Regions from separate parts of the Homo sapiens genome. Here region 1 is linked to region 2. Evidence: fine-mapped expression QTL. Tissue or cell type: whole blood. Region 2 holds a variant in brackets; the other region holds the start of a gene. All regions are shown on one strand. Distances are from middle to middle.

Region 1 (8,451 bases), 98 kb after region 2:
CAAATCTAGATTGTTTTATTTTTATCTAAACATCTCTGAACTCTCTTCTCCAACCAAGCACCCAACTCTTGGGCAATGTCACATTTTTACAACTAGGAGTGACTGAAGAACACAAATCCACTCTGCTCTGGGCACATAATACTGCTATTTGCCACTTGCTAGAATAAAAAGTGTACCTCAGTTCAGTAAAAAGTAGCATATCCATTTGATTTCTCAAAATCAACTGTAATTCTTTTTTTTTTTTTTTTTTTTTGATGGAGTCTCACTCTGTCACCAGGCTGGAGTGCAGTGGTGCCATCTCAGCTCACTGCAACCTCTGCCTCCTGGGTTCAAGCGATACTCCTACCTCGGCCTCCCAAATAGCTGGGACTACAGGTGTGCACCACCACACCCAGCTAATTTTTGTATTTTTAGAGAGACGGGGTTTCACCATGTTGGCTAGGATGGTCTCTACCTCTTGACCTTGTGATCCGCCCACCTCAGCCTCCCAAAGTGCTGGGATTACAGGCATGAGCCACCACGCAGGGCCAAAACCAGTTGTACTTCTAATAAAAATAAAAAATAGTAGCTGTCTTTGATTTTATGGGGATGTTCAAGTGCTTAACCTAGATTATTTCCATGTAATGTCACTACCTGGTAATGACTTTTTTAAAGTACATATAACATATGAAAATGTCTGAAACTAACAGGATTTAGAGGAACATGTACTAATGGGGGAAGTTTTAAAACAGGAAAACCAGAGCCCTGGTCTAATATGTGATTTTTGTATATGGAAATCACTTACTCTTGGGCCTTAGATCCCTAAATCTACTAATAGAATATGCTTAATTATTATTTAAAATAATTATATGGAATCATGATTAACAATGCTTATCACAAGACATATAGTTCACAAGACGTATAGTTTATTTTTGATGTTGAGGAAAGAATAATTTTGTTTTTTCTAACTCAATTAAAATTTTGCATTGAAGAAATGGAAAACCACCGAATTTATTGTCCAGCCATTCAGAGCTGGCTAAGTCTCAACACTTAAAATACAATTTTCAAACTGCATGCTTTCTCATTTTCAATTGACATTAATGAAAATTTAGTCTTGATTAAGCCTGATTCATGCTCATTTAGCATTAAAAAACATTAGGCAAGAAATATCTCGTTTCTGAGAAATATTGCGACATTTTTTTCAAAAGTGTTTGCTGTACCTCAGCTCTAAATTTGAAGAGAAGCAATGGTTCCTCTCCCAAGCCTCTCTCTATATACATATAACATCATATATGATCCAGTAAGAAACATTTATTTTTCCAGAATTTTTTAAATTTTTATATATATAACTTCTACAAAAATTACTCTATAGTGTTCCTTAAAAGTTAGACACAAGTTTGTCATACAACCTACCAATTTCACTGTTAAGCATCTACCCAAGAGAAATGAAAACGGGTACTCACAAACACTTGAATGCAAATGTTCTCAGCAGCATGATTCATAATATTCCCATATTGGAAACAACCCAAATATCCATCCACTAGTAAATTGACAAAATGTGGTATATCCATACAATGGAAAACTATTCAGCAATAAGAAGAAATGAAATACTGATACATGCCACAACATAGCTGAACCCCAAAAACATTATGCTAAGTAAGAGAAGCCATAAGCAAAAGACCATATAGTATATCATTCCATTTATATAAAATGTTCAGAAAAGGCAAATCTATAGACTGAAAGTAGATTAATGGTTGCCTGGGAATGGGAGTGGGAACAAAGACATAATGGACATAAGGAATCTTACCAAGTGAGTAAACTGTTCTAAAACCAGATATGGTAATGGTTTTACAATTTTGGAATGTTCTAAAACCAGATATGGTAATGGTTTTACAACTTTTAGAAAATTAACAAATTTTCTAAAACTCACTGAAATATAATTTTTAAATATTATTCACCCTTAAAGGGTGAACTTTATAATATATAAATTATATCTCAATAAAGTTGTAAAAAAATGCTGTAATGCAAACTGCGTAAGAATTTAAATAATTGTAAGAACTGTGAGGAAAATTAAATTGATCTATCATTGATCTAAACAATATGTTTGCAATCGACTAAAAAGGAGGAAAAACTCTTTAACAAAAATGAAATTTGACACATTTTAAAATATTCTGCATAATGTGGTCCATTAGTCTTTGATATTTTATTGAAGAAAGTTGTGGTAAAGATAAGATTGAGAAGTCCATTACTAAAAACGTTTTCCAAAAGATTTCCTTTCCAAAGCTATACTTTCCTTCAAAATCGAATCTTTTGAACTTCCAAAACACCTTTTTAGCAAATGATCTCTTGAGATAGTGTCACTAGGGGGGCATTGACCAGCACCCGGCACACTAACAGGAAACAAGGTTTATAAACTGCTGATTTAACCAAACTTGATCCATAACCTACCCCATTTTCCGTGAGCATTATGGTCATCAGTTCTCATTTTAATAATCCAAATGCTGAGCTTTCTAAATATAAAATCCCAGGAGGATTTTTTTTGAATGTGTGGCAATGTCAGTAAGAAGGAAGGCATCTTGTGAAGAGATAAAGTGGACAGATGAATTTTGAAATCTATCTGTACACGAAGAGAAATGCAATACTCGCAATATTTCTAATTCAATACCTTTCAGTATGCAAACCACTGATAAAAGAGTTTTTTTAAAATTTTTTTTCTAGATGAACGTTTAAGTGGTCATTCGCCTCAAATCTCCACTTTCCAGTCCTGCACAGACTCCAGCTAATAACACTACCACCTGCAGGGTGTTTTGTTGTTTGTTTGTTGTTTGTTTTAGTGCTTCCCACATGCCTAGTTCACGCATGCACTTTTCTAAAGGACCCGAGTTCCGTTGGCTGCGTTCCCCGGGGAGCTCTACGAAGACCGGTCTGACCTGGCCCTCTCAGCTCCCTTGGAAGGGACCTGCTGCAAGGCAGGGTCATTTGGCTCCGAAATGCACCTTCAGGAATTTCCCCAAGGGGCTAGCATCAGCACCAACCGGAACACAGGCCCTCCGCTCCCTCAGCCCGCGACCACCTGGCACTCGTGTCCCTCCCTGCGGCCTGCCGGGGTCCTAGGAGCAGGGAAAATCCAATAGCTACGGGCGACCCTTGAGTTTACTCGGTCTACCCACCTCCATATTTTATCCAAAGAATGGACGGAGGCCAGTGAGGTGAGGTGACTTGGCTAAAGCCACACAGCCGGACGCTGGCCGAGCGGGTTAGTACTCGGGTCTCTGCTAACCCCGCGGCCGCTCGTGACTACCCGGGGCTTGGTAAGCACCGCCCAGGGGAAAGACTTGGCATTGCTGGCGCGAGAGCCGAAGGACTCAGCGACTTGTGACAGGAGGTCATCAATGGCCACCTGCAGGGCAGAGTGGGCAAAAGGCAGGTGACAGACCTCCCACGTCACGCCTGTTGGCGTGAGCGTCCTTTTCACTCTCTAAGTACCCTGACTTGTGAGTTAAACGATGGATCGGGTCGCCCAAGCGAAAGAGGCATCTGCTTCGAACTCCCCCCATATTTGTGCCAGCAGGGCAGAAAATAGGAAAGTTGCACTTACCACATCTTCCCTGGGTCAGTCTCCCCCGACTTCCCAAGTCCCACTCCTCCCTCCTCGCATAGGGACACCCACTCACGCGCCCGCTCCACCAGGTACGTACCAGCCGCGCGCAGCTGCCTGCCCTGCCGGTGCCCTGGCGCTCGCGCTCGCCCAGCGCTCTGCGGCCCGGAGCTGCGACTCGGGCTCTAGCTCGCTGCCGCCTCTACAGTCCACCGGGATGCGGCCGCGTCTGAGCTACTGGGCTGGGGCGCAGCCAGGCGGTGGCAGCTACTCGGGGGCGGAGGGAGCGGCCGCCGCGTCCCGCCCCCAGGCTACGAGCGCGGCTCCCCAGGCGGTGTCCCGCTCTCCGTGCAAACCGGGCCACCGCATCACTCCCCGGGGCACGTGCCACGGTAGCTTTTTTCTGCTGGCAGCCTGGGGCGAGCTCTTTTATCCTACTTGTGCGTTAACCACCAACTAATTATCGGTGATCGTCACACAACCCGCGTCCTCCCCGCCCGCCACTCCCAGTTCCCTTGGGCGATGATGAGGTTCTGCTAAGATTTCTGTGACGTGACTGCGGGAATTTCAATTCCCTTCCTGCTTTCCGACGTCGCATCGTGTTTTCTGTCCCTCCGGTTGTACGCGCCCTGAGCAGGGTTTGTGCTCCAGGTGTCATTAAGGTTGCCCTTTGATCTAATGTTGGCTGTTTGGAGAAGGTAGGAAGGTACACAGGCTTATCTACGCCCCGAATCTGGGTCTTCGAGTTTGTTAACAGATTATTTTAACAGATTAGGAAGCAATATGCAATGGAAACAACTTTTTGTGCAATAAAAGCAGAAAATAATGTATATCAAGTTTCACTTTCAGGTTCTCACTAAGAAAAATAAAGTCGTTACTACTAAGGTCTCACTGTGCTTTTTAAAAGCCATATTACATGGACGACGATACTGCTGATAAAATTAATTTATCTGCTTCCTGAGAAAGTGGTTTCTCACTGAAGTCTTAAAATCTCCTCTGGTCTCCTGAAACTCTTAATTAGTACTCAAAGTCTTCTCTTATCTCTAGTCTTTACTAATTTGCTCATTCATACTATGCTCTGACTTGCCACCCAAAGCCTATGACACCTGCCAATGACCACTTCCAAATTCCCTTTTTAGGCAAAAGCCTAAATATGGAAATACGAAAATATAATCAGACTAATATTTTATTCAGTGTGTGCTAATGGTAGTACAATCAAGTTCTTTAAATTATTCAATATTCATACCTCCACAATATAGTAATAATTTTCTCTATTTTCAGATAGTAAACTGAGGTTCAGCAAGGTTAGATACTTTGAACAAGGCTAAATAGCTGAGAAGATTCCAAATCAGTTTTGAACTTAGGTCTTTCTGCCTTCAGGATTGATTGACTTCCTTAAATTATACTCTGCTAATAAAGCTGTGATTTTTCTGAATTGTGATGTAGGCACATTTTGTTTTGTATTAGGTTAGTGCAAAAGTAATTGCAAAAAAGTACTGGCAAAAACTGCAGTAGCTTCTGCACCCGCCTAATAAAAATATAGTTACTTGTGTGGTTACACAAGCATTAATCAAAGAGACTGAGAGTTATTTATATCATTAGTGTAACTTTAAAACTTATTATCTGGCATACTGCTAAGGCCTGTTATTATTATATTATATAATAACATATATTTTTATTATCTAGGGCAAATTATTCTAAGGTTTATTTATTTTAGAGGTACTATGACAGAGAGTGATACTAAAATGTTTGAACTTATGAATTATGGTATCATGATTGGATTTTTATGATCCTGCAAGTGTATTTCCTATACTTGAAAATTTTGCTTTGTAAAATCTGTATTTTGGGATCAATGTGAGAAAACCACTAGACCTCACTGCTAAGCTTTTAACCTACATATGAAATCATCAGAACCACTGGAATGTATGGCCCATGAAGGCCATATCCTCAACACCTAGAATAGTACCTTCACAAAGTAGGTACTCTACAGGCCGTTTTGAAATGAATAAGTATTAACTTTGTTTCCACACTTAAGACCAAATAATGACTTATAAGAACACTATTTATAGAATGCTTTTGTCTATTTAGATTTAAGATTTTTGATGGCCTCTCATTTCTACTAGGAAAGTAAGGAGAAGATGCGGAAAGGTTTGCAGTAGCTGCTTTTGCAAATGTTAGACACGACCTGACCATAAGTGCAAGGAGGAGTTTTTGAGTCCAAGAATTGGTGGTAGCAGTAATTCCACACAATCATGTGAATTGTGAATTTGTGTCAAATATATGCCTTTAAATGCAGAAAGTTTAATCCAACTTTGGGATTGTGCCAAGTGATGTGATGAAAAGACAAGGAGCAAGCTTGGATACTATTTTTAAGACAAGGTTTTAAGGTTAACAAGAATAAATAGGAAAATAAGTGAGGACAAAGAGGGGAGAAGAAGGAAGAGTCCAAGAACTACAAATCCACATCAAATGAGAGAGATAAGTTGTAGTCAGGAAATGGGATCGTTTTCTTTGAAGTTTTAGAAGTACAAAGATAGACAGTTTATGGAAGAGCTAAGGGTGGGGTTGGCTGACGTAGAACGAAGATCAAGACATTAGGGACTAAGGTATTGAAGAAACTATATGGACATTGAAGCCACCAACAGTAATACCAGAATGAAAAAAGGAGTGAGTTTGATAACAAACACTTCCGTGAATGTAGTGGACTGATCCAGAACTGAGAGGATGACTATGCAAAGTTGGGGCAGAAGGTGCATATCCAGGGAGGAAAAACGTAAGTGGATCAAGGACTGGTAAAAGAGACAATTAAGACTTCAGAAGTAATACTGGGGAGTTACAAGGATCCCAACACTGCCCCTGTGACCCTAGAATGTGAAACAATGAACAGTCTATATCAAAGGGACATCTAGGGGAAATAATTCTTAGAAGAAAGCTTATTTCCACTTAAGGCCAGAAAATGGAGAAAGCATTGTGTAAATAGTTTATGAGGTTGGTGGTATTTTTCAATATTAAATGAGGATTCTCCAAGGTCAGAGTAGTTAAGAGGTGGGAGGTAGGGCTGGCTTCGTGGGTCTATGACCTGTTCAGTTGAGCAGGGATCTACGTGTTGTTTGTTTTTGAGACAGAGTCTGACTCTCTCACCCAGGCTGGAGTGCAGTGGCCCAATCTCGGCTCACTCCAGACTTGGCCCCCCAGGCTCAAGCAATCTTCCCACCTTAGCCTCCAGAGTAGCTGAGACTACGGGCACACATCACCACACCTGGCTAACTTTTGTGGGTTTTTTTGTTTTGTTTTTTTGTTTTGTTTTGTTTTGTTTTGTTTTTTTGTAGAGACGGGGTTTTGCTATGTTGGCCAGGCTGGCCTCGAACTCCTGGGCTCAAGCGATCCACCCGTCTTGGCCTTCCACAGTGTTTGGATTTCAGGCATAAGCCACATGCCTTGCTCAGGATCTACTTTTAAGAAGGCCCTGTGCAATGTTTAATGCTCCCCTGTCCCTGCATTGAAATATTTTATTTTATTTTATTTTATTTATTTATTTATTATTATTATTTTTTTTTTTACCAAGGGGACTTGCATTTTCATCTTTCATTGAGCCCAGCAAATTATATAACCAATGCTGTGTGGAAGAAAGTAGAAATTCTTGCATGGGTGAAGCAAGAATCAGTATTTACCTTCTAGGGATTAAAGTTTGGGAAAGACTAAATGCAGAAGTTTGTATTTTGAGGGAAGACCAAGAGATGCAGGGAGAAGGATGTGGCTGCAAGGTTTCAAGTGAGATCTAGTTTTCACATCTCTTTAGGGCCAGGCTGGCTGACACCTGGGCAGAAGAAGTGGACAGTAGTTACCATCATCATACTCCATGTTTTTATATGCTGGTGGGTTAGTTTTTTTAGGGTTGCCATTAAAAATTACCACAAATTTGGTGACCTACACCAGAAGGAATTTATTCTCTCACAATTCTGGAAGCCAGAAGTCTGAAGTCAAAGTGTTGGCAGGGTATCACTTCCTGTAAAGACTCAGGGGAGAACCCTCTTTTGTCTCTTCTAGCTTTTTTTTTCTTTTTTGAGACAGAGTCTCACTCTGTCACCCAGGCTGGAGTGCAATGGCGCGATCTCTGCTCACTGCAACCTCTGCCTCCTGGGTTCGAGCGATTCTCCTGCCTCAGCCTCCCAAGTAGCACGGATTACAGGCACATGCCACCACACCCTGCTAATTTTTGCATTTTTGCAGAGACGGGGTTTCACCATGTTAGCCAGGCTCGTCTTGGACTCCTGACCTCAGGTGATCCGCCTGCCTCAGCCTCCCAAAGTGCTGGGATTACAGGCGTGGGCCACCATGCCCAGCCCTCTTCTAGCTTTTAATGGCCACAGGCAATCCTTGATTGTCTTTAGCTTATAGCTACATAACTCCAATCTCTGCATCCATTTTCACATCTTCCCTATGTTTCTTCTCTACTGTTGGCATTGGTATTCCCCTCTTCTTATAAGGACATTTGTCATTGGATTTTGCATCCACCCAGTTCATCCAGGATGATCTCCCCTGGAGATCCTTACTTTAATTGCATCTTCGAAGATCCTTTTTCCAAGTAAAGTCAAATTCACAGGTACCAGAGGTTAGGTCATGGACATATCTTTTTAGAGACCACCATTCAGTCCACTGTAGCCAAGTCTATGGAGGCCAGAGGAATAGCAAGGCTGGATGACACTGGCATGATAGCTCTTCAGGTCTATTTGGCAAAGATAACTACAATAATATGAACCTTATCAATGTTTCTAAAGCTTTCAAACTGTGATATTTAATACATATGAAAATCAGAAGATTAGAGCTGCCCAGAGTCTTTACACCCCTGAGAGTAGCTATCTGCCTTGGGGACA
Region 2 (8,451 bases):
TTAAGCTAAACAGAACTTACATGAAATGTAGACCTGCGTAATTTTTTTCAACTTAGAAACTTTCCTGTCTTTGAAATTTTTCAAAAGATGGTATTTCTCTGTCTCTAGTGTAAGTCAAAGGGAACCCTACCTTTGGTTTGTTGACACGCACATTTTTTAATGTTTATGTTCTTGCTTGCTAATTGCATAGACAGATCCTTCAATATACATTGGTAGGCACATGGAAGTTATTTTTACCACAGAGAATTTTTGACAGCTTAAACATATAAAATTCAAAATGCAAAGTCAAATTAATTTTTTCATAATTTTCCAGATAAATTAATGCACAAAGCTGAATACCCTTCCAGCACAATGTTACTTCTTATACTAACATAAGGCCACTTACAATACTAATATACATGAATGTTGTTAATGATAAAAAAGATGGACTGCAATAAACTATGTAGCCTCCTTGAGTATGTGTCTGTGTTTGGGGGAGTCAGATTTAACTGGTCATCTTATTCTTTTTAGTTTCATACTAGAAAGACTTATTCAACATGTATCCTCCATAAAGGTTTGCAGGGAGTTAGTTGGGCTTCTCCCAACCACTTGCAGATTCCCAAAAGGACTAATAAATTTCTCACATGATTGCAGGATATTACATTTGAAAAGATGATATAGTCCAGACTTCCAGATCCAGACACTTAAGTGATGCATCAATATAACATAGCTTAATTTGTGTCAAAGTCTTTCCTAAGTTTAGGCGGTACTCTTTCTTCCATTACCATGATTCCTCCTGCTGCTTTCCGTAACAAAAAACAAAAACAAACCCAGCTATCTACAGGGATAAAAATAAAAAAGAAAATTCACTGTATATGAAAAAGTCTTTCTAAAAATTAAACAGGTTTCCTTTTTAATACATTAGCTTGAGTGGGGTGTGTGTGTCCCTGTGTGGTGTGTGTGTTTGTGTGTGTGTGCTATGTATATTGGGTGTTATCCAGAATACAGTGATATTTTCACTTCTCCTTTAGATGAATATAAGTGGTTATAACCATAGCAAAGCATCCCTACTGTCTACATTTTATATAGTTTAGCTTTTATTTCTAGCTTCAGAGTATTCAGAATTGAGAGGATTTAGCACGGATTTGAAGAAACCCTTCTCATTCTTTTTTTCCCACCTTACCTCAAACCCTATTTATACTCCTTCACTTTCATTTGTTTCACATTATTCTTTCTAACCAGTGACTCAAATATTGTTGGTTCTTATTTTATTGAGGTACTGGAGCCTGCTTAAAGAAGTTAGGGTTCAATTCAAAAAGCATTTATGTAACACCAACTCTGCAAAGCCCCACGCTAGATACTGTGGAATTTGGCACAGTAAGTAAGGTCTTCCCATGCCTTAACTGGCAGTCTGTGAAGGCTGCGTGCTAGCACCTTTACCACGTGAGCAGTGGAGGCAGCGCTTAATTCCAGGATAGAAAATGAGGCCAGGCTTCACAGGGAACACAGCATTTAATGGAACCCCAGAAAATAAGTAAGCAAATTTCAGAGAAGGGCTGCCCTCAGACCACCCATTTCTCATTTAGTTGCTTTTCCAACTACTATTGTACACAAAGTATTCTTAGATTTCAAAGGGGGCACAAATACACTCCAAGTACACAAAATCCCCAGCACTGAATTTGCCCTAGTGGGAAAATAATGTGATTTTGAAGTTCTTGTGTACAATGTGATTTTGAAGTTCTTGTGGTCTGCTTGTACTCTTCCCTACAAAGAGGGAACACGGCCGTCTGTGTTGGGGGTTTACATGCAAGGCCTAAAAAGTCAGTTCCCTTTTCAATGAGATATATGGTTTTAAAATGTCAAATGGCGGTTTATGACATCAGTAGGAAGAAGAGAAGGGGAAGTTAATTCTTACCAATGTGGTCACAATAGAAATGGCTTCATATCCCTCTGCCTAGTAGAGAGACTGGAACATATCTGCTTAATACAATCAATAAATCAATGTTGAATTAATAGCTGATACCTATCGATTATGAGCTGAAAATGAAGGTCCTTTACATTATTAATATTCATAATAAAGATCAAAAGTAAATAAATAATAAGACTGAAAGTTCAGTTATTCAGTATTAAAATAGATTTTGTTTTGTTAACATCAAAATAGATAGGAGTCAGGCTGTAGACTAATGGCAAATACAATGGTTTTTAGATGTGGGTAGTAAACCTGGATTGGTAGAGCCAGAGCAGTAGTTGCTGCAAAAACTCATACAGTACGACCCTCATCTAGGACATCTGATGGTTATACACATGGACACTTTAAATTTTAAACTTTCATTTCAGAAAGCATTTATAATTAATATATACTTATTTATCTTTCAAAGGGAAAATGCAGTGTGATACCAAATAATAGAACTATTTTTACTAACACACCAAAATTTATAGATGGAAATGAGTATCATCTATCAAAGCAATTACTTTAAGTAGCCACATATTTATTCCACTTCTGAAACTGTTTTTGTGACTCCATCATTGCAACTCATTTTATACTCATACATCAAATAGTGGTAACATGTTCTATTTAAAATATAACGTATTTTATAGTAAACTGTTTTTAATTAAAAAAAAAAACTCCCACTTGATCCCATCTCTTTGTACTAAGAATGACTTCAGCTACTTTTCAAAACCTCCTTAGGTAATTTAGATTTGCACATATTCAAAATAAAACTATTTTAAATGATGATTTGAAAGCAGAGCTTTGGGCACTACTTAACTGCATTAACACACTCTCAAAGTGACTGCCCTTAGTCCTCTTGTTTGTTACACGGTCTATATGGAGCAATGGGAAGTTTGGTCGCCTAAAAGTGAACACTTCTGAAGTTGAATCCTGGACTTTCAACTTCTAGAAAGACATCTAACTTCTTTGTTGATTAGCATTCTACATTTTTAAAAAGTAGGATTTATATTATCTATTTTACTACCCTGGACTCAAATGAACTAATGTTATAAATGTGCTTGGTTAACAACTACACAAATGGAATTTATTTAGATATCAGTCATATAAATTTATAGGCACTATGACAGAGTATCATTATGAATATCAATTATTCTTTTAAGCAACAGTGTTGACGTGGCTCTAGAGACAGCCTCTGATGTTGGACTGTAGGCAGAAAGAGATTAACGCAGCTGGGCGTGATGGCTCATGCCTGTAATCTCAGGGTTTTGGGAGGCTGAGGCAGGCAGATCACCTGAGGTCAGGAGTTTGAGACCAGCCTGGCCAATATCTACTGGCCAGTATCTACTAAAAATACAAAAATTAGCCAGGCGTGGTGACGCATGCCTGTAATCCCAGTTACTCAGGAGGCTGAGGCAGTAGAATCACTTGAACCCGGGAGGAGGAGGTTGCAGTGACCTGAGATCACGCTACTACACTCCAGCCTGGGCAACAGAGCAAGACTCCATGTCAAGAAAAAGAGATTAACTCTGAGACATTTCCAGAAAGTTGATATTGTTTAAAAAGGCATTCAAAAAATCATTTACAATCTGCTTCCCAGCACACCCTCAAACCTGTCTACGTTTCTGCAACATCTGA[A/C]CCATACAAGTCACCAGTCACAGAAAACCATATCTCCCCTACACTGCCCATAGGAAGATTTCTCCCTAAAGGTGAAATTTTCACATACTTTCAGAAACAAACCATGTTTCAGTGTTCTCTCCAATGGTTAAAATGGGATTGAAATTCTTGATTTCTTCATGATGCCTAAAAAAGCATTCTTAATCTGAGTAATATTAAAATGAGATAATATGGCATAGGAAAAAGGGTCACAAAAGATAATATTGACAGAGTCCTGCTTTCTCAGTGGGGCTTGCTTTAACCACCTTGTTTAAAATTGCATCTCATCCCTCCAGCTTCTAATTCCTCTTACTTTCTCTTAGCACTTACTAGCTTTGAAAATGTATTCGCATTTACTTATGATTGCAGTTGTTGCTTATTGTCTGTCTCCCTTCACTAGAAGGTAAGCTCCACAAAGCAGAGCTTTTGTTTTTGTAGGTTGTTTCATTGATGTATTCATAGGACCAAAAGCCATGCCTGATTCTTATTCAGCAAGCACTCAATAAATAAAATAATTGTCTTTCCACTTTTCAACATGAATTTTTTTTCTTTTTGCATATGACATTAATATATGCTTGTTGTTGGGAAAAGGACAATTCCAAAAGACATAAAGAAGGAAAAAGAGATTGCCATCCCGCTATCCAGTAACAGTGCTGTTGTAATTCTGGTGCATAACCTGCCAGAATTTTTTCAGCGGCACATATACAAGAATATCACAACATATTTTACACACCATTTAGTTTGAAGCTAGATGATATTTATTTGATATCATTTTATTATATCTTAAAAATGCAATCTTTCTCAAATCAACATAATTCAAAATTTCTAATGACAGTTTTGAAAAAATAAAATTTTCTTGAATGTTAACATTAGAGAGCATATACCAACTATGTAAAATATGCATAGCCAAAAAGCAAGGAACATGGCTGAGTACTGAAATTACTTATAAATGTTTCTTTAATCGGATAAATAAAATGGGTATAAAATAGATAGGTATAATGCTTTTTTAAATGCACCCACAGTTTCGGTAGTGTCTTTTTCTTCTATTTCATCAATTTAAAGAAAAACTCTTAGGATGTCTCTTAGCCCATATTTAAATGAATATAATATTCATTTTTTTCTTCCAACAAAGAAAAGGAGAGAAATGATTAAGCCTTTTTGAGCTCTGATTTGTTTTCTAAGTTATCTTCGGTACTTTACAGAAGAAATCATTATAACGTTGCAGCAAGCAAAAAATTCAATCAAAATTATGGGAACAAAAATTAAGAGTAGTTTTGAGAATTTTTCTGGGTCATAGAGGAAAAAAAATCCCAACCAAAGGGCAAACAACTTTAGAAAGAAAAATCATCTAATTGAAATATTTTTTCATCAAATTATGCATGTTTATATTAACCTGCAATTAAGTTAATAGAAGTAGCATTATTTAAATTGATACATTTAACTTTTATAAAAACATTTTGTACAAAATTATGTTACTATAGTCCTTTAGTACTATATAAGTTAAATAGAAAAATGAGGCCATGAAAATATCTAAAATATTTAAAAACATAAATTTTCAAAATTTTAAAACCACTATGCATATATTAGTTTTAAAATACATTCACAGAAAAACATTTTAAGGGAAATATACTGAAATTATAATAGTTATTCCCTTTGTGTATGTTATTATTAATGATTTCTATTTTCTTCGTTGAATTTTACTTTTTTCCAAATTTTCTATAATGAAGATTTTTATGATATGAAAAATGGCATATGCATGTGTTAAGCATGCATTGTTTTAAAGCACTTTATTGAGAATTTGTTCATGTGATTCTACACTGTGGATTAGTCACTACTGTCTTCATTTTAAGGGTGAGGAAACTGACGATCATAGAAATAAAAGGGTTTGGCTAAACCTAGCTAGCAAGTAACAGAGACAAGACTGGAACCCATTTCATCTCACAACTCATTATTTTCTCCTTAAATTACACCTCAGCAAACATTTATTGAGCACAGACTCAGTCCTCATTCAATCAATTATTGTTAAGCATCTACTATATCTTCCGTTCAGTGCAAGACTCTGGGGAAACAGTGGCAAATAAGACTAAGCATTGTGATAGAAACAGTGGGGACACATGAAGATGCTTAATATATGGTCCCCACCCTGAAAGAGTTGTGAACTCATCGTACAGATGGAATATGTTGCATATTAAAGGAAATGTAAAAATAGAAGTAAATATATGATATATTCAAATAAGTGTTATAAATAAAACTACTATAGAAATGTAAAAGATAAATGGTTACTGAATTTTGGGGTGATTAAGGAATATTTCACAAAGGCTGTAGAACACACACAGAGCCTCAAAATTTGGGAGGAATCCACACAGGTAGAAAGGGAATGAAAGGCTTACTAAGCCAGAGAAATATCTGTAAGCTAAAAGAGGGGAGTGCAAAAAGCAAGTTCTAAATAAGAGAAAAGGAAACATTTCGCTGCCATGGAGTGTTATGCCCACGTGGAGTTGGAAAAATGAGTTGGAGCATAGTCATAACATAGTGGGAAAGAAAATGAATGCCATGAACAATATGTGAACGTATCCTGTAAGCACCAGGGAATCATGAAACTTCTAAATCACATAGTAAAGGTGTGTATGAGATGCATTTTCTGGCCAGGCGCAGTGGCTCATGCCGTAATCCCAGCACTTTGGGAGGCCAAGGCAGGCAGATTACAAGGTCAGGAGATCGAGACCATCCTGGCCAACATGGTGAAACCCCATGTCTACTAAAAATACAAAAAATTAGCTGGGCGTGGTGGCATGTGCCTGTAATCCCAGCTACTTAGGAGGCCAAGGCAGGAGAATCACTTGAACCAGGGAGCTGGAGGTTGCAGTGAGTCGAAATTGCGCCACTACACTCCAGTGTAGCCACAGAGCAAGACTCCGTCTCAAAAAAAAAAAAAAAAAAAAGATGCGCTTTCTGAAAATAGAGACAGATGTCAAGGAGAACCATTAAAGCATATTAAAAGGTGAAGTTTTTAAATCAAATCTACCACAATAGAGTAATAAGCTGATTCCAAAAATTTATATGAAAATGCTACAGACTGAGAATAACTTCTTATTCCAAAAAGAAAGGAAAAAGTAAAGGACTTACACTATCAGACTTGATGGCTATTAATTCTGTGTGGTATTCCTCAAGGGTAGACAAATAGAATACAAAATAAAATAGACACTCTAGAAATAGACAAATACACTCTTATTGTCCATTGATTTCTGAAAAAGGCTTTGATTATCAATGTGGTCATTGAACCATGATGATCTTGGAGGACTCACAAAGGCACCACAAAATTAGATATTGGTGGAGAAATTTTTGATCATGGAAACAATAGATCTTGTTTATAATAATTTGTGACAAAAATTCTAAGGATTATTAAATAGATGGCTTTCAGCTATAGTGTTTTTCTGGTATATTTTATTTTTAGACAAGGTCTCCCTCTGTTTCCCAGACTGGAGTGCAGTGACATGATCACAACTCACTGCAGCCTCAATTGTTTGAGCTAAAAGCAATGTCCTGTCTGCCTCCCGAATAGTTAGAGCTACAGGTGGGCAGCATCACACTTGCCTAATTTTAAAACTTTTTGTAGAGTTGAAGGATGGTCTTAAACTTCTGGCCTCAAGTGATCCTCCCTCCTTGGCCTCCAAAAGTACTGGGGTTTCAAGAAGGAGCCTCCACCTGATTCAATGATCAACACTTTGCTATATTTAATCTCTCTAAACATAAACACACACACACACACACACACACAGTTATTATTTCACCAACTGAAAGCAAGCTGCCATTAACATGACACTGCATATCTAAATACCTTAGCATATATCTAAGTATTTAAGAATTGGTCTTCTGTGTATATCCATCATACCGTTATATTTCCACAATGTTATTTTTTTCATGTTCCAATTCCTGAGATAATTCACCTTTTCTCCTGGAGTTTAGCCTTTGAAATTCTTTTGGGAACTATAGTTTTTTGATGACTGAAAAGATCTATTTTTATCTTCATTCTTACAAATACACTATTTTAGGATGAAAGCACCTAACAATATTATTCCACATTATTCTATTTTTGCTGTTAAGAAGTTTGCTAATTGTGATGGCTAATTTTATATGCCAACTTGACTGGGCTACAAAGTGCTCAGATACTTGGTTAACCATTTCTCGGGGTGTGTCTGTGAGGGTGTTTCCAGAAAAGATTAACATCTGAATCAGTGGACTGCATAAAACACATTGCCCTTCTCAATATGGGCGGGCCACATCCCATGCATTGAAGTCCTGAATGGAATAAAAAGATAGAGAGAAGGAGAATTTCTTTCTCTGCCTGTCTTCAAGCTGTCTTCAGTCTTCAATCTTTTGCCTTAAACTCAGACTTGGCCTGGAACCGACAATAGTGGGTCTCCCGGTTATCAGACTTGAACACAAACTGGAACCATATCATTAGCTCTCCTGAGTCTCTAGCTTGCCAAAGCCTTAGGACTTCTCAGCCTTCATAATTGCATGAACCAATTTCTCTCTCTCTCTCTCTCTCTCTCTCTCTCTCTATATATATATATATATATACACACATATATATATAGCGTTTTTTATATAGAGAGCGAGCATTTTTGCCGTTCTTACGTAGAGCTTTTACATATATATACATATATATGTGTGTATATATAGCTTTTACATATATACATATATACATATATGTATATATATGTGTGTGTATGTATATATGTAAAAGCTCTACATAAGAATGGCAAAAACGCTCTACATAAGAACGGCACCTGCATCATAAGTGTATTAGATTCTTCAGAGAATTGCATCATAAGTGTATATAGTTCACTATTCTCTCTTCAGCT

The links. PIP is the estimated chance that this variant, and not a neighbour inherited with it, causes the effect.
Region 1: PKIB starts here. The variant in region 2 is fine-mapped to the expression of PKIB in whole blood (INTERVAL, PIP 0.98).

Annotation. Positions count from the first base shown.
Region 1 is chr6:122,605,762-122,614,212 of GRCh38, reverse strand. It overlaps PKIB (cAMP-dependent protein kinase inhibitor beta), which reads right to left and starts at 3,808. Exons shown (of 5, transcript NM_181795.3): 1 at 3,678-3,808. RefSeq lists an enhancer at 2,516-3,161 and a silencer at 3,778-3,957.
Region 2 is chr6:122,703,639-122,712,089 of GRCh38, reverse strand. All of the region lies in intron 3 of PKIB (cAMP-dependent protein kinase inhibitor beta), which reads right to left. Among named protein-coding and RNA genes, the nearest start is that of FABP7, 72 kb to the left of the region's middle. RefSeq lists a silencer at 7,899-8,099. The variant A/C (reference allele first, on the strand shown) is at 3,566.